Linked DNA regions of Homo sapiens. The protein of the gene in region 3 interacts with the protein of the main gene of each other region in a pairwise test. Each region holds a gene or a part of one and is shown on either strand. Other genes may lie near its edges. The genes, in order: TULP3, ARMC8, TNNT1, WDCP, HMGXB4, LARP1 and JAKMIP2.

What was found.
Region 1: the proteins of TNNT1 (region 3) and TULP3 interact in a two-hybrid assay, tested with the Homo sapiens proteins (one large-scale study listed by BioGRID and IntAct).
Region 2: the proteins of TNNT1 (region 3) and ARMC8 interact in a two-hybrid assay, tested with the Homo sapiens proteins (one large-scale study listed by BioGRID and IntAct).
Region 4: the proteins of TNNT1 (region 3) and WDCP interact in a two-hybrid assay, tested with the Homo sapiens proteins (one large-scale study listed by BioGRID and IntAct).
Region 5: the proteins of TNNT1 (region 3) and HMGXB4 interact in a two-hybrid assay, tested with the Homo sapiens proteins (one large-scale study listed by BioGRID and IntAct).
Region 6: the proteins of TNNT1 (region 3) and LARP1 interact in a two-hybrid assay, tested with the Homo sapiens proteins (one large-scale study listed by BioGRID and IntAct).
Region 7: the proteins of TNNT1 (region 3) and JAKMIP2 interact in a two-hybrid assay, tested with the Homo sapiens proteins (one large-scale study listed by IntAct).

Annotation. Positions count from the first base shown.
Region 1 is NC_000012.12:2,914,891-2,918,390, reverse strand, and holds part of TULP3 (tubby-related protein 3), read right to left. Parts: intron 1-3,500. UniProt on the Homo sapiens protein: Negative regulator of the Shh signaling transduction pathway: recruited to primary cilia via association with the IFT complex A (IFT-A) and is required for recruitment of G protein-coupled receptor GPR161 to cilia, a promoter of PKA-dependent basal repression machinery in Shh signaling.
Region 2 is NC_000003.12:138,190,301-138,193,800, reverse strand, and holds part of ARMC8 (armadillo repeat-containing protein 8), read right to left. Parts: intron 1-3,500. UniProt on the Homo sapiens protein: Component of the CTLH E3 ubiquitin-protein ligase complex that selectively accepts ubiquitin from UBE2H and mediates ubiquitination and subsequent proteasomal degradation of the transcription factor HBP1.
Region 3 is NC_000019.10:55,135,707-55,139,206, forward strand, and holds part of TNNT1 (troponin T, slow skeletal muscle), read right to left. Parts: intron 2,369-3,500; coding exon 2,255-2,368; intron 1,507-2,254; coding exon 1,397-1,506; intron 1-1,396. UniProt on the Homo sapiens protein: Troponin T is the tropomyosin-binding subunit of troponin, the thin filament regulatory complex which confers calcium-sensitivity to striated muscle actomyosin ATPase activity.
Region 4 is NC_000002.12:24,033,892-24,037,391, forward strand, and holds part of WDCP (WD repeat and coiled-coil-containing protein), read right to left. Parts: intron 1-3,500.
Region 5 is NC_000022.11:35,263,993-35,267,492, forward strand, and holds part of HMGXB4 (HMG domain-containing protein 4), read left to right. Parts: exon of another isoform or gene 1-104; intron 105-655; coding exon 656-1,611; intron 1,612-3,500. UniProt on the Homo sapiens protein: Negatively regulates Wnt/beta-catenin signaling during development.
Region 6 is NC_000005.10:154,793,377-154,796,876, reverse strand, and holds part of LARP1 (la-related protein 1), read right to left. Parts: intron 3,283-3,500; coding exon 3,154-3,282; intron 3,078-3,153; coding exon 2,877-3,077; intron 2,778-2,876; coding exon 2,615-2,777; intron 1,703-2,614; coding exon 1,558-1,702; intron 1-1,557. UniProt on the Homo sapiens protein: RNA-binding protein that regulates the translation of specific target mRNA species downstream of the mTORC1 complex, in function of growth signals and nutrient availability.
Region 7 is NC_000005.10:147,584,938-147,587,833, forward strand, and holds the end of JAKMIP2 (janus kinase and microtubule-interacting protein 2), read right to left. Parts: 3' UTR 501-2,896; downstream 1-500.

The DNA.
Region 1 (3,500 bases), on a different chromosome or scaffold from region 3:
CCTGTAATCCCAGCAGTTTGGGAGGTCGAGGTGGGCGGATTACCTGAGGTCAGGAGTTTGAGACCAGCCGGGCCAACATGGTGAAACCCCGTCTCTATTAAAAAATAAAATTAGCCAGGCGTGGTGGCAAGCGCCTGTAATCCCGGCTACTTGGGAGGCTGAGGCAGGAGAATCACTTGAACCTGGGAGGCAGAGGTTGCCGTGAGCCGAGATTGGACCACTACACTCCAGCCTGGGCGACAGAGCGAGACTGTCTCAAAACAAAAACAAAAACAAAAATGAATGCTGTAGCTATTTTTTGAGACGGAGTTTCACTCTTGCTGCCCAGGCTGGAGTGCAATGGTGCAACCTCAACTCACTTGCAATCTCTGCCTCCTGGGTTCAAGCAATTCTCCTGACTCAGCCTCCGGAGTAGCTAGGATAACAGGCACCTGCCACCACACCCAGCTAATTTTTTTTGTATTTTTAGTAGAGATGGGGTTCACATGCAAGGAAAATATTTTCTTTTTTTTTTGAGACAGAGTCTTGCACTGTCACACAGGCTGGAGTGCAGTGGCGCGATCTCGGCTCACTGCAAGCTCCGCCTCCCGGGTTCACGCCATTCTCCTGCCTCAGCCTCCCGAGGAGCTGGGACTACAGGCGTCCGGCACCGCGCCCGGCTAATTTTTTGTATTTTTAGTAAAGATGAGGTTTCACCGTGTTGGCCAGGATGGTCTCGATCTCCTGACCTCATGATCCGCCCGCCTTGGCCTCCTAAAGTGCTGGGATTACAGGCATGAGCCACCGTACCTGGCCAAGGAAAATATTTTCTATAGAAAAGGAGTTTTCTGCTGTGGTCTAGAAAAGGGAGGCCAAAGAGCTAGAATTTGATAGGGTTATCAGGTTTGTCCAAGAAAGAGAAGTATCTTTTTTTTTTTTTGAGACAGAGTCTCGCTGTGTTGCCCAGGCTGGAGTGCAGTGGTGCGATCTCGGCTCACTGCAACCTCTGCCTCACGGGTTCATGCAATTTTCCTGCCTCAGCCTCCCGAGTAGCGGGGATTACAGGTGCACCCCACCATGCCCAGCTGATTTTTAAACTTTTAGTAGAGATGGAGTTTCACCATGTTGACCAGGCTGGTCTCAAACTCCTGACCTCATTCCCTCTGATTCCTTGCTCACCAATAAGCCTTCTAATTTGAAGTTTAACTTCTTAGGTATCGTATTCCCAGGAAAAGAGTATTATGAACAGTAGACATGAATACACACTGAAAGAGTAGAGCTCCCTTTATAAATTAATAACTTGGGGTTCTGGTTTTAAAACTTACTGGTGTGGGTTTAACTAGCGTGAATTTGTGCCAAAGGACCTGGTTATATCCAGTTCACTGACAAACTAAGCTCTCACTTGTTAAGGGGAGACTAGACCCCTGACCACAGTGTTCCTGCCAAGGTATCTGGGGAAGCCTCTCTCTATCTACTTACAGACAAATCAAACTCATTTAGACCAATGACTTAAGAAAAAAACAACTGTAGACTCAAACTGTAATCAGGGCCACAGCTACTATACCTCAGTATTGAATGATCTTACTACTGTCCAAGTTTACAAATAAGAAAAATACCATTAAACATATATGTGCAAGCTGCCATCTTGGTGAAAACCGTCATGCAGTTTGGATGGGGGAGGAGAGAAGTGCTACTTGTGTTTGAATGTAACAATGTCAATTCCTATTCCATCTATATTTTACTTCCCTGAAAACCTAAAAGTGCTTTAAACGAGGCTACATCAATGAAGGACTCATTACCAAGATAGAGTAAGTCAGGGAGCCAGGAAGAAAGCCAGAGCTGATGGTTAGATGCCCTAAATGCAATTAAAACACACTGCCTTCGTGATTTTAAGTGTCATATAAACTAAAACTTAATCACTTTTAAATTTCCTAATTATCTTGGGAATTGAACTGTAAAAGAATCTATCTTCCCAAGAATTTAGTGGTATGTCTTACTATCCTGCTAAAATATTGAATGGTGATGTCAAAATAAACAGTAAGAAATTAAAGGAGATCAGATAGGTGGAAATTTCCATGAAATAACTTTATCCAATAAAATAATAAAGCTCTGACCGGCGCAGTGGCTCATGCCTGTAATCCCAGCACTTTGGGAGGCTGAGGTGGGCCGATCTCTTGAGGTCAGGAATTCGAGGCCAACATGCCGGAAACCCCATCTCTACTAAAAATGCAAAAATTAGCTGGATGTGGTGGCACAAGCCTGTAAATCCAGCTACTTGGGAGGCTGAGGCAGGAGAATTGCTTGAACCCGGGAGGCAAAGGTTGCAGTGAGCCAAGATCGCGCCATTGCACTCCAGCCTGGGCAACAGAGCAACCATCTCAAAATAAATAAAACTTCATTTAAATTAATGATAGTTTAACTAATTCTCAATTTTCCTAGACAAGGAGTCACCCTAGAGGTGATGGGCTAAGGTTACACTATGACAGTTTTCCAACAGACTGACCAACCACAGAGTACAACCAGCATCAGGCTAGTTGTCTGCAGTCTATCAGTTTGTTTAAAAATCTCGGCCGGGCACGGTGGCTCACGCCTGTAATCGCAGCACTTTGGGAGGCTGAGGCGGGCAGATCACGAGGTCAAAGGATTGAAACCATCCTGGCCAACATGGTGAAATCCCATCTCTACTAAAAATTAAAAAAATTAGCTGGGCGTGGAGGCATGCGCCTGTAGTCCCAGCTACTCAGAAGGCTGAGGGAGGAGAATCGCTTGAACCTGGGAGGTGGAGGTTGCAGTGAGCCTGAGCTGAGATTGCACCACTGCACTCCAGCCTGGCGACAGAACGAGACTCTGTTTCAAAAAAAAAAAACAAAATAAAAAAACTAACTTAATCTCCCCGCCCACAAAGCAAGATCATAGGAAGGTAAGACTAAAATTTTTAAACTAGACTTCTTAAAATATCATTCAGTGCAGTGATGACCTCTCATCATACAAATAGATGAGCAACTTGGCTCAAAGGAACTATGTTGTACTTTAATCCATTTTCATCAGACGAAATAAATGTACTCTACCTAATATGCATCCATGTCAGAAATATCACAGCAAGAATCAGAAAATCCATTCTGGGCTGGGCGCAGTGGCTCACGCCTGTAATCCCAGCATTTTGGGAGGCCGAGATGGGTGGATCACTTGAGGCCAGGAGTTTGAAACCAGCCTGACAAACATGGCAAAACCCTGTCTCTACTAAAAATACAAAAAATTAGCCAGGCATGGTGGCGTCTGCCTGTAGTCCTAGCTACTCGAGAGGCTGAGGCATAAGAATCGCTTGAACCCGAGAGGCAGAGGTTGCAGTGAGCCAAGATCATGCCACTACACTCCAGCCTGGGCAACAGGGCTACACTCTTGTCTCAAAAAAAAGAAAAGAAAAGAAAATCCATTCTGCAGCTTGCTAAGGTGCCCACATACCCTGAAAACGAGTATCTTGCCAGGTATGGTGGCTCACACCTGTAATCCCAGCACTTTGG
Region 2 (3,500 bases), on a different chromosome or scaffold from region 3:
AAAGTTATTCACCAAACCTAAGGTTCTGCAGATTTTCTCCTGTTTTATTCTAAAAGTTTTATTTTATGATAAAATCTATGATCCATTTTGAGTTACTTTTTGTATAAGGTATGAGATCAAGGTTCATCTTAAATTGTGGTTAAGAGGATGAAAAGGCAAGTTACAGATTAGGAGAAAATATTTGCAAATACCTATCTTACAAAGGGTTCAGATTTAAAACATATAAAGAGCTTTTGGCTGGGCACGGTGGCTCACGCCTATGATCTCAACACTTGGGGAGGCCAAGGTGGGCAGATCACCTGAGGCCAGGAGATTGAGACCAGCCTGGCCAACATGGCGAAACCCCATCTTTACTAAAAATACACACAAAAAATTAGCTGGGCGCGGTGGCACACGCCTGTAATCTGAGCTACTTGGGAGGCAGAGGCCCGAGAATCTCTTGAGCCTGGGAGGCAGAGGTTGCAGTGAGCTGAGATCACACCACTGCACTCCAGCCCGGATGACAGAGCAAAACTCTCTCAAAAAATAAGATAAGCCGGCGCGGTGGCTCACACCTGTAATCCCAGCACTTTGGGAGGCCAAGATGGGCAGACTGCCTGAGGTCAGGAGTTTGAGACCAGTCTGACTAACATGGTGAAACCCCATCTCTACTAAAAATACAAAAATTAGCCAGGCATGGTGGTGGGCATCTGTAATCCCAGCTACCTGGGAGGCTGAGAGAGGAGAATCGCTTGAACCTGGGAGGCAGAGGCTGCAGTAAGTTGAGACCAGGCCATTGCACTCCAGCCTTGCCAACAAGAGCGAAACACATATCAAAAATAAAATAAAATAAAAATAAAACCTATAAAGAGCTTTTAAAACACCACAGTAAAGAAGCAAACACTCCAATTAGAAAGTGGGCAAAAGGACATGAAGAAATATTTCACCAAAGAGAAAACATGGATGGCAAATAAGCGAAGATTTTCAGGCCAGGTGCAGTGGCTCACACCTGTAATCCCAACACTTTGAAAGGCTGAGCTGGGAGTATGGCTTACACTTAGGAGTTCCAGACCAGCCTGAGAAACATGGTGAAACCCCGTCTACATGGCCAGGCATGGTGGCACACACCTGTAGTCCCAGCTACTTGGAAGGCTGAGGCAGAAGGATTGCTTGAGCCCAGGAGACAGAGGTTGCAGTGAACTGAGATCACGCCATAGCACTCCAGCCTAGGTGACAGTGCAAGACTGTCTCAAAAGGATAAATAAGCCTGTAATCCCAGCACTCTGGGAGGCCGAGAAGGGTGAATCATGAGGTCAGGAGATTGAGACTATCCTGGCTAACACAGTGAAACTCCGTCTCTACTAAAAATATAAAAAATTAGCCAGGTGTGGTGGCGGGCACCTGTAGTCCCAGCTACTGAGGAGGCTGAAGCAGGAGAATGGTGTGAACCCAGGAGGCGGAGCTTGCAGTGAGCTGAGATCACACCACTGCACTCCTGCCTGGGCAACAGAGGGAGACTCCGTCTCAAAAAAAAAAAAAAAAAAAAGGATAAATAAATAATAAAAATATTCTCAACATTATTAATCATTAGGGAAATGCAAATTAAGACCATGATGAGATATTACTACACATCTACTAAAACAGCTAAAATAAAAATAATAACAGTATCAAATGGCAGTGAGGATACAGAGAAACAATGTCTCATATATTACTGGTAGAAATGTAAAATAGTACAGCCACTCTGGAAAAGTTTGTCAGTTTATTTTAAAATTAAACATGCATTTACCATCTGATCCTGCAATTGCACTCCTGGGCATTTAGCTCAGAGATATGAAAAGTTATGTCCTTACAAACCTGTACATGATTGTTCATACTACGTTATAATAGCCAAAAACTAGAAGCAACCAAAACGCCCAACAGGTAAATGGTTAAACGAGCTGTGGTACATCCACACCATGAAATACTACTTAACAATAAAAAGGAACTACTGCTACATACAACAATATGGATAGATCTCAAAAGCATTATACTGAGTGACAAAAAACAACCTCAAAAAGTCACATACTGTATGATTCCATTCATATGACATTATAGAAAATGACAACATTATAGAGATGGAGAACAGATTATGGTTGCCAGGGGTTAGGGATACCTGTTGCGGGGAGAGGCTGGGTAGGTGGGACTATAAAGAGGGAATATGAGGGAGATCTTTGCGGTGACGGAATAGTTCTGTATCTTGACAGTGGTGGTAATGGTAACACAAATAAACATGTGATAAAATGATACAGAAACAGATACATACTTATACCAAGATCAATTTCCTTGTTTTGATACTATAATGTAACTATATAAGATGTAACCTATGAGGGAAACTGGGTGAAGTGTACACAGGGACCTGTCTGTACTATCTTTGCAACTTCCTGTGAATCTATAATTATTTCAAAATAAATGTTTTTAAAAATGCAATCAACATAATTCAAAAGTATAGAAAACATTGCAGAAATTTATGAATTTGTTGAAAAGGGTGATGTTGTAATGTTAAATGCAAACCAAAGAGGGATGGGGTGGTCATAGTGCAGTCTAGAAACAGGGCTGGAGAGTTTGTCCAACCCTCCAAAATAGATAGTTCAATCAAACATTTACTGAGTACCTAGGATTTGCAAGACAAAGTGTTACTTCTGAATTAATTTACTCTCTAATACGACAAGATAGAGTATTATTAAAGACCTCTGCAAAAGCAGTTCCCTTTGCCTTGTATGCTCTTCTTCTGTCACTTTTTCTAGTTAGTTCTTACTTATCCTTGAACTTTCAGCTCAGCATCACTTCTTCAGGGAAACCTTCCCTAGTTCTTCCTATTGCCCTCCATATTAGATCAGTTTCCTCTATGACATGTTTTGAACAGCACCCTATATACTTCATTCATAATACTAATCACCATTCACAAACTGTGTGATTATTTGATATCTATTTTTCCCACTAGGCTAACATTTCCAAAAGGACAGAGGTCTGTGTAGCTTACGGCTGTATTCCCAAACTCAACACCATGCTTGCCTAGCAAATGGCAGAAGCTCAAAGTAGATGTACAGAATATATATATACAAAGTTAAAATTCATATGTACAAATGAGTAAGAAGAATAAGATTTACTGGAGTTTGGAAGAATTCTGTATCACTCTAACCTGAGAAAGCCGGTTTATACAGGATAGCAGGTTCATGTAGAAGATAAAGAATCTCGGCCGGGTGCAGTGGCTCACACCTGTAATCCCAGCACTTTGGGAGGCCAAGGTGGGTGGATCACTTGAGGTCAGGAGTTTGAGACCAGCCTGGCCAACATGGTGAGACTCTGTCTCTACTAAAAATACAAAAAAATTAGCCAGGCATGGTAGTGGATGCCTGTAATCCCAGCTACTCAGGAGACTGAGGCAGGAGAATCGCTTGAACCCCGGAGGCGGTGGTTGCAGTGAGTCGAGATTGCGCCACTGCACTCCAGTCTGGGCAACAAGAGCAAAACTCCATCTCAAA
Region 3 (3,500 bases):
AGTAGAGATGGGATTTCATCATATTGGTCAGGCTGGTCTCCTGACCTCAGGTGATCTGCCCGCCTCAGCCTCCCAAAGTGCTGGGATTACAGGTGTGAGCCGCCGCGCCCGCCCGGCCAACAATACTTTACATGAACCATGTGCACAGGAAGGAGGGCCCACAGCGCCCCCCAGAGGGCTTCCAGGAGCCTGCTGTGCACATCCTTTCCCGTCTCCACACTCAGTGTCCCCACACGGGTAGTTTGAAAGGAGCAAGGTGGAAGTATTTACGCCCTGGGAATGGGCATGTGCTAAATCTAGACATTTTGCCCCCTGGAGAGCAGCTGTTAAACATTTACCATGAAGCCACTTTACAGCACACTAGCAAAGAGTACGGACTATTGCACCAGACTGCCGGGTTCAAATCCCAGCTCTTCCACTTGCTAGCTGTGCAACCCTGGAAGGGTTACTTAACCTCTCTGTGCCTCAGGTTCCTCACTATTAACACAAGGATAATAATAGTATCTACCTCACAGGGTTGTAAACCCTCCACAGGAAGCTGCTGCTGTAATTATTATTTTTTTAAGGATGGGGTCTCACTACATTGCCCAGGCTGGTCTCCAACTCCTGGCCTCAAGCAATCCTCCCATCTTAGCCTCCCAAAGTGCTGGAATTACAGGCATGAGCCACCGGGCCCAGCCTGTAATTATTATTACTATCTCACTGCCCTTTCACAGCTCTGTGAGGTCAATTTTGTGATTATATCCTTGTTCTGCCAATGAGGAATGGGAGCCCCAGAGAAGTCAGATAACGTGCGCAAGATCACAAAGTAGCCGGCAAAGCTGGCACTGAGCCCTGGGCAGGGGCTTTCGGTGCAAGCGGCAAACCCGATCACGGCGCCACTCTGGGGTGGTTGAAGTTTCTGAGCCACAGCCCAGGCCAGAGAACATGGAGAAACAGGCGGGCTCCTGAAGGCAAGCCCCCACCAGCCTGCCGTCCTGTAGCTTATCATGAGAGGCAGGCTGTCTTGGCTATAGATGCGAGGGACTCAGCTGGAAAATTCTCACCCGCATTCCTGGCTTGAATTTAGGTAAAAGGCACAGCCCATCCTGAGCTCCAAGGCACATCACGGAGTTAACAAAATCTCCTAAACTTGGGGGAGGGAAGTCATCTTGTCTGGCTTCCTTGGTAACACCTGTCAGATGCTACAGGCCACGGCAGCCACGAAAAGTGGGTTCAGTGACATGTTTCACAAAGAAGGCAGCAGAGGCCCAGAGAGGGGAAGCCACTTGCCCAAAGTCACATAGCACTGGAGCTGAGACCCGGAGTATCTGCCCACCCAGATCTGGGTGTGAGCTCCTTTATCCCCCTGTCTCACACCCAGGCCCCTACACCCCGAGCCCCCCACAGCACCTACCGGAGCTGTTCCTCCCCCATGTAGTCAATGTCCAGAGGCTTCTTACGCTCGGAGAGGATGCGCACCTTCATCTCCCGCCCCGTCTGCCGCTTACCACGCTTCTGTTCTGCCTGAGGGTGGGGGAGGCGGAACAGTAAACTGGGGGCCACATCCCACAGAGCACTGCCGTGTCGGGACCCACACGTCGGATCCCACAGACCATTTCCATGTTGGGACCACAGGTCTGCACCCCAGGCCCATCTCCTTCAGACCTAGGAGTCCAGCCCCACTCCCTCCTCCCTCAGATTCAGGAGGAGTCCAGACCCCCAGTCCCTTCTCTTAGACTGAGTCCAAGCCCCAGACCCTCTCGCATTAGGAACCAGAAGTCTGGCCCCCAGCCCCTCCTCCCTCAGCCCAGGAGTCCAGACCCCAGCCCCTCCTCCCTCAGACCCAGGATTGCAGGCCCCGAGCCCCTCCTCCCTCAGACCCAGGAGTGCAGGCCCCCAGCCCCTCCTCCCTCAGACCCAGGAGTCCAGGCCCCCAGCCCCTCCTCTCAGACTGAGTCCAAGCCCCAGACCCTCTCGCATTAGGAACCAGAAGTCTGGCCCCCAGCCCCTCCTCCCTCAGACCCAGGCGTCCAGGCCCTCAGCCCCTCCTCCCTCAGCCCAGGAGTCCAGGACCCCAGCCCCTCCTCCCTCAGACCCAGGCGTCCAGACCCCAGCTCCTCCTCCCTCAGACCCAGGAGTTCAGGGCCCAGCCCCTCCTCCCTCAGACCCAGGAATCCAGGCCTCAGCCCCTCCTCCGTTAGGAACCAGAGGTCTGGCCCCCAGCCCCTGCCCCCTCAGAACTCAGACCTCAGGCTCCTGCAGGCTGACTCACCTTGACCAGGTAGCCGCCAAAATGGGCCCCCATGTTGGACAGCACCTTCTTTTTCTTGGCATCATCCTCTGCCCGCTTCTTGGCCTCTTCCTCTTCCTTCCTCATCTTCTCCTCCTGTGGGAAGTAAGGGGTTAACCTCATGGACTCCCCTGTAGGACTGAGGGAGGAGGGCCCTGGGATGTGGAACTGGGGCACAGGGATCAGCAGACCCAGTGCCGCAGAGGCTGCTGGGACATCAGAACCAGCAGAAACGCAGGGGTACCCACTCCCGGCCCTGCCACGTCTCCCCGTGTGACCACCTACAAGTCCCTTCCCCTCTGTTTTTTTTTTTTTTTGAGACGGACTCTCGCTCTGTTGCTCAGGCTGGAGTGCAGTGGTGCGATCTTGGCTCACTGCAACCTCCGCCTCCCGGGTTTAAGCAATTCTCCAGCCTCAGCCTCCTGAGTAGCTGGGATTACAGGCACCCGCCACCGCGCCCAACTAATTTTTGTATTTTTAGTGGAGACGCGGTTTCACCATGTTGGCCAGGCTGGTCTCAAACTACTGACCTCAAGTGATCCGCCTGCCTCGGCCTCCCGGAGTGCTGGGATTACAGGCGTGAGCCACCGCACCTGGCCCCCTTCTCTGGGTCTTAATATCCTCCCAGAAAAAATCGAAATGAAGGAGAAGAAGAAATGCCTGCTTTTTCTGCATGTCTCCACCCTGAAATAGCCGATAGTGAACTCTGCTGTACGACCTCACTCCAGATGCTCAGCCTGTCTGGGCCACAGTCGCCCTTAGTCTCAGGATATGAGAATGTCTGTTTTGAGGGGGTCAAGGGAAGTAACTGGTGATAAGACCAGGGACTGGGGAGATTAAAGAGGCTGATGGCCTTGAGCCTGAGGAAGGGGTTCTGGAATATTGAGCGAAGGCATTACGACATTCGAGAAACTCTTCATTGAATGTTCCAGAAACAGTGGTTTGTCCAGGCTGAGCCCCGTCTCCTTATGGTGGACATGAGGCTTTTTGTACACCCAGCACTCCGTACCTGAATTAGTTTCCTTTCTGTTTTTGAGATGGAGTCTCGCTCTGTCACTCAGGCTGGAGTGCAGTGGTGCAATCTCTGCTCTGTTCACTGCAACCCCCACCTCCTGGGTTCAAGTGATTCTCCTGCCTCGGCCTCCCAAGTAACTGGGATTACAGACATGTGCCACCATTACCAGCTAATTTTTGTATTTTTAGTACAAACAGGGTTTCACCATGTTGG
Region 4 (3,500 bases), on a different chromosome or scaffold from region 3:
AAGAAAATAAAACTATACATCACTGTGGTAGGATGAACCACTCAAAGAATATGTCCACTAATATTTTTAAATGAAGTCACAGGAATAAACTGTAAAAGTCAAAACCAACTAATCATTTATTTCACGTCTTATGAAATGTAATTTCTGAAATTACAGGGGAAACTATTTCTTGCTTTTGATTATTGTGTAACTTTTACTTTTCTCATTACAAAAGGAATAAATGATCAATTTTTTAAAAGTATAATAGGGCCGGGTGTGGTGGCTCACGCCTGTAATCCCAGAACTTTGGAAGGCCAAGGCGGGTGGATCACTTGAGGTCAGGAGTTCGAGACCAGCCTGGCCAACATGGTGAAACCCCATCTCTACTATAAATACAAAAATTAGCTGGGTGTGGTGGTGCACACCTGTAATCCCAACTACCTGGGTGGCTGAGGCAGAGAATCGCTTGAACCCAGGAGGCGGAGGTTGCAGTGAGCCAAGATCGCGCCACTGCACTCCGGCCTGGGTGACAAAGCAAAGCTCTATCTAAAAATAAATAAATAAAATAAAAATATAACAGAAATATATAATGCAGACAGTAAAGCCCCCAAAATTCTATCCTCCAGAGATAACTACTGACAACAGCTTGGTTGGATGACATAATTATAAACTAAAAAACTGAGGAATTGAAAGGGCAACAAAACTTTTTTTTTTTTTTTTTGAGACAGAGTCTTGCTCTGTTTCCCAGGCTGGCGTGCAGTGGCACGATCACAGCTCACTGCAGCCTCAACCTCCTCAGCTTAGGTGATCCTCACACCTCAGCCTCCCAAGTAGCTGGGAAAACAGGTGGGTGCCATCACGGCTGGCTAATTTTTGTATTTTTCGGTAGAGACAGGGTTTTGCCATGCTGCCCAGGCTGGTCTCGAACTCCTGGACTCAAGTGATCTACCCATCTCGGCCTCCCAAAGTTCTGGGGTTACAGGTTTAAGCCACTGTGCCTGGCCAAACATGGTTGTTTTAACCTTAGTTTTTAAAAATATAAAATTTTACATTTATAAGTGTTTTAAAAACAGAAAGATATATTATTGTTTGCAAGTAAAATAGCCTATTTAAAGAAAATTTTAAAAATAATATATTTTTATATTAGATTTTTTTTGGATTAGATAAATGTACAGAAAAAATATGGAAATATTTACATCTAACATCTAATAAAATATTTAGCTATATCTGTGATTTTCTCTAAAGGTTGGATTATGGAAAATTTTTACTTTCTGTAATGGTAAAATTTTTTTCCTCAACAAGTATATATTACTTTTGTAATTAGGAAAAAAAAATACTATGCAGCTGTGGAAAAAAAGATGAAAAAAGAGCTCTGTGTGCTGATATAAAGAGCTCTCTAGGACATACTATTAAATGGAAAATGAAAAGGTGTGTATATCACCTTCCCTTTTGTGTAACAAAAGGGGAAATAAAAATACATAACTAAAGTCTGCTAGTATCTGCATAAAGAAATAAAAATAAAAATGGTTACCTAAAGGAGGAAAGGAGAACAGGCTGAAGAAACATAGGGTAGGAATAAGAGTTCTTGGTATACAGTTTTTATTAAAATACAGTTTTGCTTTTTAAACCAAATAAATGAATTACCTATTAAAAAAAGACAGAAGAAAAAGAAAACAAACTCTTTAAAAAGTCATAGTAGGAAAGAAATCCAAACCAGTTATCACATTTATAAATAAAATAATTTTAAAAAAATCAAAACTATGGCTGGGTGCAGTGGCTCACACCTGTAATCCCAGCGCTTTGGGAGGCTGAAGCAGGAGGACTGCTTGAGCCCAGGACTTCCAAACAAGCCTGGGCAACATAGCAAGACCTTGTCTCTATAGTTAAAAAAAAATTTTTTTTAATTAAAAAAAAATTAGGCCGGGCGCAGTGGCTTACACGTGTAATCTCAGCACTCTGGGAGGCCAAGGCGGGCAGATCACAAGGTCAGGAGATTGAGCTCATCCTGGCCAACACGGTGAAACCCCGCCTCTACTAAGAATACAAAAATTAGCCAGGTGTGGTGGCACGTGCCTGTAATCCCAGCTACTTGGGAGGCTGAGGCAGGAGAATTGCTAGAACCTGGGAGTTGGAGGTTGCAGCGAGCTGAGATCGCGCCACTGCACTCCAGCCTGGTGACAGAGACTCCGTCTCAAAAATAAATAAATAAATAAATAAATAAATAAATAAATAAATAAAATAAAATGCTCCTCACAGCAAAGCTGTGACTTAAAAAAAAAAATTAAAACTCTACTACTGAAAACTCCATGTAGTTAATGTGGCAAAAATCCTCTTTAAAAAAATGTAGGGTTGGGGCCACATGCAGTGGCACACACCTGTAATCCCAGCACTTTGGGAGGCTGAGGCAAGACTATCACTTGAGCCCAGGAGGTCATGATCAGCCTAGGCAACATAGCAAGATCCTGTCTCTGCTAAAAAAAAAAAAAATTAGCCAAGTGTGGTGGCATGTGCTTGTAGTCTCAGCTGCTCAGGAGGCTGAAGCAGGAGGGTCACTGATCAGATTGGTGACATACGAGGAAAAGGACAGCCTTATACATAGCTGGCGGGCGTGTGATGATGCACTGTTAAGTAAAAATCTTTGAGAGGCAATCTGGTAACTCAATTAAAAGTAGAAACACATATACTCTTCAAATTTGCATTTCTACTTCTGGGAACCAATCCAACAGAAATAAAGGTACTAATATGAATGGATACATATAAGAGTACTACTGCAGCATCATTTGGAGTAGCTAAAAACTAAAAACAAAGTGAATGTCAATCAACAAGGGAATGGCTAAATAAAGAGCATACTCTCAGTATGAAGTAAAGAGTGCACCATATCACCCTATTTTTGTAAAAACAATGACAAACCATTCCCACATACCTATATATCTATGTACACAAAGACCTGTGTTAGATCATGTGACCATGGAGAAAGTCACGAAAGGATCCATGTTAAGCTGCTGGTTACAGCGGATTAAGGGGAAGATGGGGCAAGGCCATATTTTATATAGGAGGAAAGTGTCCATGATAAAAACATGTATAATATGATCCCACTTATATAATGTTTGGACATGCATGCATAAAGAAATGCATCAAAACATTTTAAATGAACATAACCTTTTCCTTTTTCTTTGAGACGGAGTCTCGCCCTGTTGCCCAGGCTGGAGTGCAGTGGCACAGTCTCGGCTCACTGAAACCTGTGCCTCCCGGGCTCAAGTGATACTCCTGCTTTCCCAAGTAGCTGGGATTACAGGCGCCCATCACCATGCCCAGCTAATTTTTATATTTTTGTTAGAGACAGGGTTTCACCACATTGGCCAGGCTGGTCTCGAACTCCTGACCTCAGGTGATCCACTTGCCTCGGCCTCCCAAAGTGCTAGGATTACAGGCGTGAGCCATGGAGCCCAGCAACATAACCTTTTTTATAACTGGAGGAGTATCTCTATTATATAAGGAAAAGGTTGTCACAATGAAATAAC
Region 5 (3,500 bases), on a different chromosome or scaffold from region 3:
TTGTTCTGAGTGCCGATAAACCAGTGTGAAGGAGGAGAGAGGTGGAGGGCTGGTATTTTGGAGGATTCAGCATAGAAGAACAGTCTGCATTTGTGATACACCAGGTACCAGGTTCCTTCTCCCCCCAATCATCCACTTATCTTGTGCCCATTGTTATCTAGCATCCCTTTTGCCATACGTAGTCCTCTGGCCTGCACCTGTGGGTCACTTCTCAACCAGTATATATCCACTCACAGAACCAGTTTTCTTAGCTATGTTATGCACATAGCTGATGAGACTCAACTTTCACCAGAATGGGTTTGTCCTGAACACAGAAACAAATGATACTCTGTCTGCAATCTGAATTGTTAACTTCCCATAATCCCACAGCTATAGTCAGTTCTTCTGGGTATGTGCTCTTTGGTTGCTTCTGAAGACTCAATGAAGAGAAACAACTTTAGTGGCAAGAACTGTGTCCAGGGTCAGAGGCAGACTCTACCAAGCCAAGAAGCACAAGGGCATCATTTCTCAATGTTAGGAATCAGTTAAAGGGTCTCCCTTCAAATCATTCCTGTTAGCCTCTTTCTCATGTTAGCTAGGTGCTTTTGATGAGAGAGGAAACTTGTTAGAAGTTGCTTCCCATCATATTGACAGTACTTCTCTTGATTATTTCTAGATATTTCGTCTTTGGAATCGTCACAGAAGAAAAAGAAAAAGTCCAGCCCACAGTCTACTGATACAGCTATGGACCTGTTGAAAGCTATCACTTCCCCACTGGCAGCAGGCTCCAAGCCCTCCAAAAAGACTGGGGAGAAATCCTCTGGCTCTTCAAGCCATTCGGAGAGTAAAAAGGAGCACCACAGGAAGAAAGTCAGTGGAAGCAGTGGGGAACTACCCCTAGAGGATGGTGGCTCCCACAAATCGAAAAAAATGAAACCTCTCTATGTGAACACAGAGACACTGACCCTTCGGGAGCCTGATGGTTTAAAAATGAAACTTATTCTGTCACCAAAGGAGAAGGGAAGCAGCTCTGTTGATGAGGAGTCTTTTCAATATCCCTCCCAACAAGCGACTGTGAAAAAATCCTCAAAGAAATCAGCTCGGGATGAGCAGGGTGCTTTACTCCTAGGACATGAGTTACAGAGCTTTCTGAAAACAGCCCGGAAAAAGCACAAGTCATCCTCAGACGCACATTCATCTCCTGGCCCTGAAGGCTGTGGGTCTGACGCCTCCCAGTTCGCAGAGTCCCACAGTGCTAACCTTGATCTTTCAGGGCTTGAACCTATTCTGGTAGAATCAGACTCATCCTCTGGTGGGGAACTAGAGGCTGGGGAGTTAGTGATAGATGATTCTTACCGAGAAATCAAGAAGAAAAAGAAGTCAAAGAAGAGCAAAAAGAAGAAAGACAAGGAGAAGCATAAAGAGAAGCGACACTCCAAGTCCAAGAGAAGTTTAGGACTTTCTGCCGTGCCAGTGGGAGAGGTCACAGTGACATCTGGCCCTCCTCCCAGCATCCCATACGCTGGAGCAGCAGCACCTCCCCTGCCACTTCCTGGCCTCCACACAGATGGGCATAGTGAAAAAAAAAAGAAAAAAGAAGAGAAGGACAAAGAGAGAGAGAGAGGAGAAAAGGTAAAGCATCTTTTAAGTGTGGTGGGGGTAAGAGATTAAGCAGGTTCTTCCTGGGTAGTCAGTGGACTTTTAAGTTAAGCAGTTGAGGTAAACCACTGGGAATTAAGCATGTTTGGGGGATATGTTGGAATGATATAAAGTATAAAATATTACCAGTAGCCCAGTCTGTCTGATATAGAAGCAATCTTTTTTTTTTTTTTTGAGATGGAGTCTCGCTCTGTCGCCCAGGCTGGAGTGCAGTGGTGCAGTCTGGGCTCACTGCAACCTCCTCCTCCCAGGTTCAAGCCTCACCCTCCCAAGTAGCTGAAATTACAGGCACCCGCCACCACACCCGACTAATTTTTTTTTTTTTTTTTTGTATTTTTAATAGAGACGAGGTTTCACCATGTTGGCCAGGCTGGTCTCAAACTCCTGACCTCAAGTGATCCACCCACCTCAGCCTCCCAAAGTGCTAGGATTACAGGCATGAGCCACCATGCCCGGCCTAGGGTTTCTTAATAGAGTTATTCTCCCATTGTGCCAGGAATAGGTTTAGTTACACTGTGGCTTTTTCCAGCTAGTTCTTAGAATTCACAGAAGGAGCTAAACCCAATTTCTTTCACTTAGCATCACTGTCTGCTTAGGGCAGTTGGGAGATGTCAAAAGGTGTTCTTTGAGTTCATTTTTAAAAACAGACTATCAAAATTGGTAGAACAATGAGCAGTCAAGTTAACAGAATAGCTAATGACTTTCCACCAGCTGGTGTTGGCTACTTTCTGGTATTCTTTTTAGTGTCGAATATATGTTCTTTTACTGTCTGAGTGCTTGCTGTATGCCAAGCTCAATGCTGTAGATAGTACCAGGAAGTAAAAACACAAGCAGGACATAGTTGTTGACTTTAGGGAGCTCACTGTTGATTAGGGAGATAGGAATGATAAATCAGTCACCTTGGTTTGATTTCTTTCCTCATAACAGTTTCTGGCAGTGAACTTTAGGGTCTCATAACTATGTCATTAAAAGTTTCTTTTTTTATTTATAGTTCTGCAAAATGCAATGTCAGATAAAATCTGGAAGAAAAGCGACTAAGAACGAGAAAATCAAATGTATTAAGAATCTGGGGCTGGGTGTGGTGGCTCATGCCTGTAATCCCAGCACTTTGGGAGGCTGAGGCAGGTGGATCCCTTGAGCCCAAGAGTTCGGGACCGGCCTGGGCAACATAGCGAAACCCAGTCTCTACAAAAAAATACAAAAATTTGCCTGGTGTGGGGGTGCACATCTATAGTCCCAGCTACTCAGGAGATTGAGGTGAGAGGATTGCTTAAGCCCAAGAGGTGGAGGCTACAGTGAGCTATAATCTTGCCACTGCAACTTCAGCCTGGACAGCAGAGTGAGGCTCCCTGTCTCAAAAGAAAAAAGAAAAGAATCTAGGAATGGGAATTTAGTTTGATCTCTGAGGTGGAAGTTATTTCTCCACTATAAAGGGTGCCTTTTAAGAAAGTCTGCTTATATCTATCTGTTTATATCTATCTGTAGATCTATATCTGTTTATCAGTATGTGTGTGTGTATATATAATATATATAAAATAATATATTATATATATATACACACACACATCTGTTTATCTCAAAAAAACCACAAAGCTGTACCTCTGAGCCAGGAATCAGTGTGAACATAAAGACCTGGATATTCCAATACTAAGTCAGGTTTTATTCAGTTGTTTATTTGGAAAATTGCTTTATGAAATAAACACTATGTGTTCTTTATAAGATTCTGTTTATCCTAAGAATTTCCAGTCTAGTGACGTGATAATGCCATGGACTAATCATCCAGTGCTGAATGTCGGAGCACAGGGTCAGGGAAAGCTTGAAGAAGGAGAAGGTTTCAGTGGAAGTGGACGCATGGAGGCAGA
Region 6 (3,500 bases), on a different chromosome or scaffold from region 3:
TATTAGAGATCAACTCATAATTATGCAAACTGGCTAACAAAGGGAGGAAGATCAAACATTAATCTGCCCTTCCTGAACAAACTATACCTCTTGGTAACTGAACAGTTGATGAGGCAAAGTTACTTCTTGAAGAGGTATTCCACCTAATAAATGAAGACCGACTGACAGAATTAGTATATTGTCATTTTGCAATCCTAACGAACACTGCTGGCAGCTTATAGCACAAGAGAGACAATCAAATGAAATGTTATGTGCCACCTGAGAGAAAATACATCATTATGATAAAGTATTCTTGACAAGGAGGGGAAAAAACTTCAAAACCTGAATCTGATCAGGCCTCTAGATCACAATTTACAAAAAACTTGGAGTACAGATGAACATGTTAAAATGACATCCCTGTGCCCTGTGGAAAATCCTACAGGATGTACAACTTAGTCTATTCAAATAATAAACGGCAAAGAAAAAGAAAAATAGAGGCAAGAGGAGACTTAATAAGACAATACACAGGTCTTGTTAGTTTTTTGTAGAGACAGGGTCCTGCTATGTTACCCAGGCTAATCTTGAACTCCTGGGCTCACATGACCCTCCCCTTGGCCTCCCAAAGTGCAGGGATTATAGGTGTGAGCCACTGCACCCAGCCTATAGGTATTATTTGGATTCTGATTCTCACAAACTATATATATATATAAAATATATATATAATATATAAATACATAAAATATATATATAATATATAAATATATAAAATATATATAATATATATACTATATATAAATATATAAAATATATATATAATATATATACTATATATAAATATATAATATATAAATATATAATATATATAAAAATATATATAATATATAAATATATAATATATATAAAAATATATAATATATAAATATATAATATGTATAAAAATATATATAATATATAAATATATAATATATAAATATAAATATATAATAAATATATAATATATAAATATATATAAATGTATATTTTATATATAAATGTATATAAAATATATATAAATATATATAAAATATATATATAAATATATATATGGCGCCAATTGGGATGAATCTGAACTAAATATTTGATGATATTAAGGAACTGTTAATATGTTAAACTGTTAATTTAGGTATGATAATGATACTGTGGCTATTTTCTTTTAACAAGTCTATCTTTTAGAAATCTATACTGAAATATTTGTGAACAAAATGCTAGGTTTTCTAGGATTTTCTTCAATGTAGTATGTGAGAATAAACAGATGAGGGTACAGATGGAATAAGATTAGCCATAAACTGATACCTGCCGAAGCTGATGATGGGCTCATTATACTACTCTACTTTTGTTAAGTGTCTGACATTTTCCATAATGAGCAAGAGAGGGAGAGAAAGGAAGGAAGGAGGGAGAGGAGGAGACTAGCCAAGCCTTGAGACTTCAGCAGAAGTCATCAGATGATGACTCTTCCAGGGCTTTCTGCCTTGGCCCAAACTCCAGCTCCCTAAGGACCTTTCTTTCCCCTGCATCCCAGCTCCAGGGAGGAAGACATACCGCAAAGATGAGTGAAATGTCAGTGGTAAGGGCCTGCACTCGGTGGAAGGAAGCAATAAGGGTGATGGGTAGGAAACCATCAGCATCCATTTTCCTTCGCAGGAAGAAGTCTCGCTCTAAATTGTCCACGCTGAAGTAGTATTCACTAAGTGGAGGGAAGAAGTAGTTATCACCGAGGGATTGGTGCATCAGTTTTATGAGTATGCCTTCCTTGTTCTGCTACACACCCCAGCAATCTCACACAGCCTCTGACCTACCCCATCCTTATCCTATATACCAACAGTGTTGAGGGCTGAAAAGAAATGATGTGATCCCTTCATGACACCCTACCTTGCTTGGGTCAAATCACTCCCTCTGCCCTAAGCCCCTCGACATGCCTGTCAAACTCCTCATCCTCCTTTAAATTCCAGTCCAAATATTGTTGGTCACTTTCTCTTCTGCTCCTAAAACACTTATAAACACTCTATTGCAACCATTTATTTTCTTGTATGACTTCCTTACTGGACTGAGAGACAATATATCAGAGTGGTTAAGAACAAAGGTTCTATAATAGGACAGAAAAGGATTTAAATCTGTGCTTTGTTACTTACTAGCTGTGAGATTCTGTGCAAATTACTGGGCCGGTTTGCTTGTCTATAAACTGGGGCTAAAAGACTCAGCTCATAGGAATTCAACAGATAAGAACTGCAGGACTAAGATAATGCCTCTACAACAATAAACACTGAGCCTGGCCGATACTAAGGATTCAATAAATGTTAGTATTCTGTCAATGTTGTCATTACAAATGGAAGAACAGAAGGGGGTAGATTCTAAATATTTTCCTTCCTTTTTGTAATGGTATAGTTTCTAACTTTCTTAAGGTAAATGTTGTACCACTTCTGTAATAAACAATGAGAATGTGGTATCACTTCTTTAATAAACAATGAGAAAAGCTATCTTTTCAGCCTGAGGCTGAAACTGCTGCTAAGCACCAGAAGGGCCTGCCCAGCTATGACACTCTAGCAACCCCTAACCTCTCACTCATTTCTCCAGGGTAAGAAGGCTTCCGCACACTCACATCTGGCGCTTGATGTAGTCTTTGAGCAGTTCCTGATCCACACTGTAAAGCTCGGTGCTGCTGACATTGTCAAAGTAGTAGGTGATGTTGTTCATGTACTTGGGCGTACGAGGCCCCTCCACACCATCAAACTTTCGGTAGCCAAACTGGTAGTCAAAATGGGCTATGGGGGAAACGGGTGCCATGAGGGAGAGGAGATTCCTGCCCACCACCCCTGCTGCACACCCTTGGACATCCCGGAGCCCAAAGGGGCCTCACGTACTTCGAGTGCCACCCCGGCCGCGTCCCCGGCCGCGACCACGCCCCCGTCCACGGCCACGGAAGGAAGCCCGCGCCCCACCAGCCCCATCACTCTTCACACTCGATGTCTCATCCTGGTCGTGCCAGGCAGGCTCCGGTTTGATCTCTGGTTGCCAGGCTGGGGTGGGGGGGGCCACGGGCACGTAGGTGGCAGACTCAGACCCTATGGGGAGAGGGGTACCAGGTCAGGCCTGAGGGTGTCTCCCAAGTCCAGGCCCTCCATAGTGGGTAGTGCATACCTTTGATCTCTCCGCGATTGGCAGGTATGTGTCTAGGCTCCGGTGGGCGAGTGGGGCGTGAAGCCAGTTTCTCTCTGGGCACTTCAGGCTTCATGTCTATTTGTAATGGAACCCACTTGTGTTTGTTTCCTGGGAGACAGCATGGGTACATGAGAAAGGCTTGAGGGAGAGGCCACTCCTAGCCAGCTCTACCCAACTCCTCTTCTTCTGCCCTGGACTTGGGCCCAAATCACAATCTGGTTACCTTGGGCAGATCCCTTTCCCACACATTAGCCCTCTTTTTCATCTCTAAAATAAGCTGGTCAGTGGCCGTCAGTGTGTTAGAGACTCCTCGTTAACTCCCAAGA
Region 7 (2,896 bases), on a different chromosome or scaffold from region 3:
CTTATCATAGTGCCCATAGCACACACAGTAACAAATGCAGAATGGGAAGACAAGAATAAATCTATTTACTGTCCTGGATATAGAGTTTATTTCCCTACATTACACTGATAGCCCTGATTTGCCTCACCCTGTTTTTCAAAAGTAGATTAGAGGAAGGGCGCTGTCGCTCATGCCTGTAATTCCCAGCACTTTGGGAAGCCAAGGCTGGTGGATTGCTTGAGCCCAGGAGTTCGAGACCAGTCCGACCAACATGACGAAACCCCATCTCTACTAAAAATACAAAGAAATTACCAGGTGTGGTAGTGCACGCCTGTAGTCTCAGCTACTTGGGAGGCTGAGGCAGAAGAATCACTTCAACCTGGGAGGCGGAGGTTGCAGTGAGCCAGTGAGCCGAGATCGCACCACTGCACTCCAGCCTGTGCAACAGACCAAGACTGTCTTAGAAAAAAACAAGTGGAAGAGTTCATTAAACAAACAGCTATAAACAATGAAAGATAAAGTTTTTAAAAAATGCAGCTTGTTTTATTTTTATATAAACTAAAACACCAGAGTTCATCGATTCCTATATTAAATACATAAATTATAAAATAACCATTCATAAAACTTTACATACAGTAAGTTGATTCCAATCTCTACGGTAATACATACAGTACATGTACATATTCGGTGTACTTCAGAGGATCATTCTGGTGAAACTCAGTCAATTTTTATTTTTCTTTCATTAATAAACAAGCACTGAAGTGATATATGGAGTCATGCTAATGAGATGGAAAGAAAGAACCCCAATTGAGGCAGTTGATTGAATGAAAGCTCTGTGAAATTGGACCCTTGGCTACATTAACACAGTAAACACCTGGGGAATTATGTATTCAAACACATTAGCTCTATACTTGAGTCCCCAAAGTATTGGATCTTGAAGGCTAAAACATGCATGAACCCTGTTGAGATGGAATTTTTAGCTAATAAAGATATGGGACTTTTGGCTAATTTTAATACTGTAGATTGTGCTGAACTTTCTGTTGCTCTTTCAAAAAAAAGAAACATCAACCAACCAACCAAACAAATAAAAAAAACCTATTTGCTGGTTTATGGGCCTGGATAATTGAAAAACCGAGTGGTCTCTGCCTCAGTCAACAATTGGAAATAATAGTAGTGAACAGAAGGTGGGGTAAGGGAGAGAAGAGGTAGTCAAGGATGGGAAGAGTTCAAACACTAAATGCTCGACAAAAACATGAGTTCCCAGCAGAAGCAGCAGCAGCGCAGAAAAAACCTTTCTTGAAGTCCTGCATCCTAGAACAGAAGTACACGTTTAGTAAGCGCTCACACCATCATACTATGTACAGAATATATCTGTGCATATATTTACATCACATATTTATAAAAATGTTTGGATTTTGATCTGCCTCATTGTGGGAAGTTGCTATGGTTAATGGCTGGTATAGGCACAGTCTGTGAGATGTCAGTCAAATAGAAGTGTTGTTACTAACAGATGCTGGGGATCTGTTTTAGTTGGAAAATTGCATCATCCACTCTTTAGTAAGTTCGTGGGATCTTGATTGTGGGCAAAATTGGGCTCAAAGTTGTTTAACTTTACCATTCTCACCCTACAGAACTTTGCATATAACAAGGATGAAAATATAAGCATGGGTACAAAGACCGTAATGCAGAAAAAAACAAAAACAGGAACCCTCACCAAATCAACCACGTGTATCTCTGCCACATTAATTTGAATATAGGAAATTATAATCCTATTTTTGCTACATTGCCCCTATAAGTATATCTTTAGTAGTTTTTTTCCTCTCTCCCTCTTTTCTTTCTTTCTTTTTTTTTTTTTTTTTTGAGATGAGGTCTCACCATGTTGCCCAGGCCGTTATGAAACTCCTGGGCCCAAGCTATCCTGCCACCTTAGCCTTCTGAGTAGCTATCTTTAGGAATTTTGATTAAGCATTGGACTTGGACTCCCAGCAAGAGATTTATTTAGGAAGAACTAAACCGCCAAACTAATGACAGCAAAGGATTGTGAATCTGCCCTGCCCCATTCTGAAATGGAATAATAGAATTTGGCACTTGAAGAGGCCTTACAGGGATTAGCTCCAACTTTCCATTATGTCTGTATCTTCTTGCCAATATGCCTGAAATTAGATCTCAAGATACTACATTATATAGAAATGACAAGGCAGTAGAACACAATGACATCTTTCCTCACTTAAGACCTAGAAGTCTGCTTAAAGAGGGGCTTGGGTCCATATTGGAAGCATAAACTCATGACATAAACAGTCATCTAAGATTTGCTTTGAATGTTTATCATTCAAAAGTTATATTGAATTTTTTCAATGTAATAGATAAATCTAAATTAGTAAAATGATAGAATTAAACTGCCAAAAGCTGTCATTAATTACCAAAACACTGTTATGAAAATTTCACAAAAGGCAACAAGCAATGCAACTCCCAAATTACAGAGCAAATTTCTATTGCTCTGTGTGTGTGTGTGTGTGTGTGTGTGTTTGTGTGTGTATTCTGTGCCACTCTTTGACAGATTGAAATAATGCAATTAAATATTTTAAAAATAAAATTTCTATGCTGTCCATCTATCTTGATGTAATATAACACAGATGATCCAATTATTTAAACATCAACACAAAACCAATGAATATTCTTTTTACAGTTTCTACAAAAACCTAGGCAGGTTAAAAAGACGTGCTTCATTTTGAAACAATGAACTTGTGAATTATGTTAAAGCAAACATAAGAATTACACAATGGGTTTACAGGAAAATTTGACAGTCAATGGGCAAAAAGGAACAAGTTTGCCAGAGATTTATTTAAAATTGAAAGCAAAGTTGAAACAAAATACTGCAGCAAAATTTATTTGGCAAACTTTATTTCTCCTATTACTA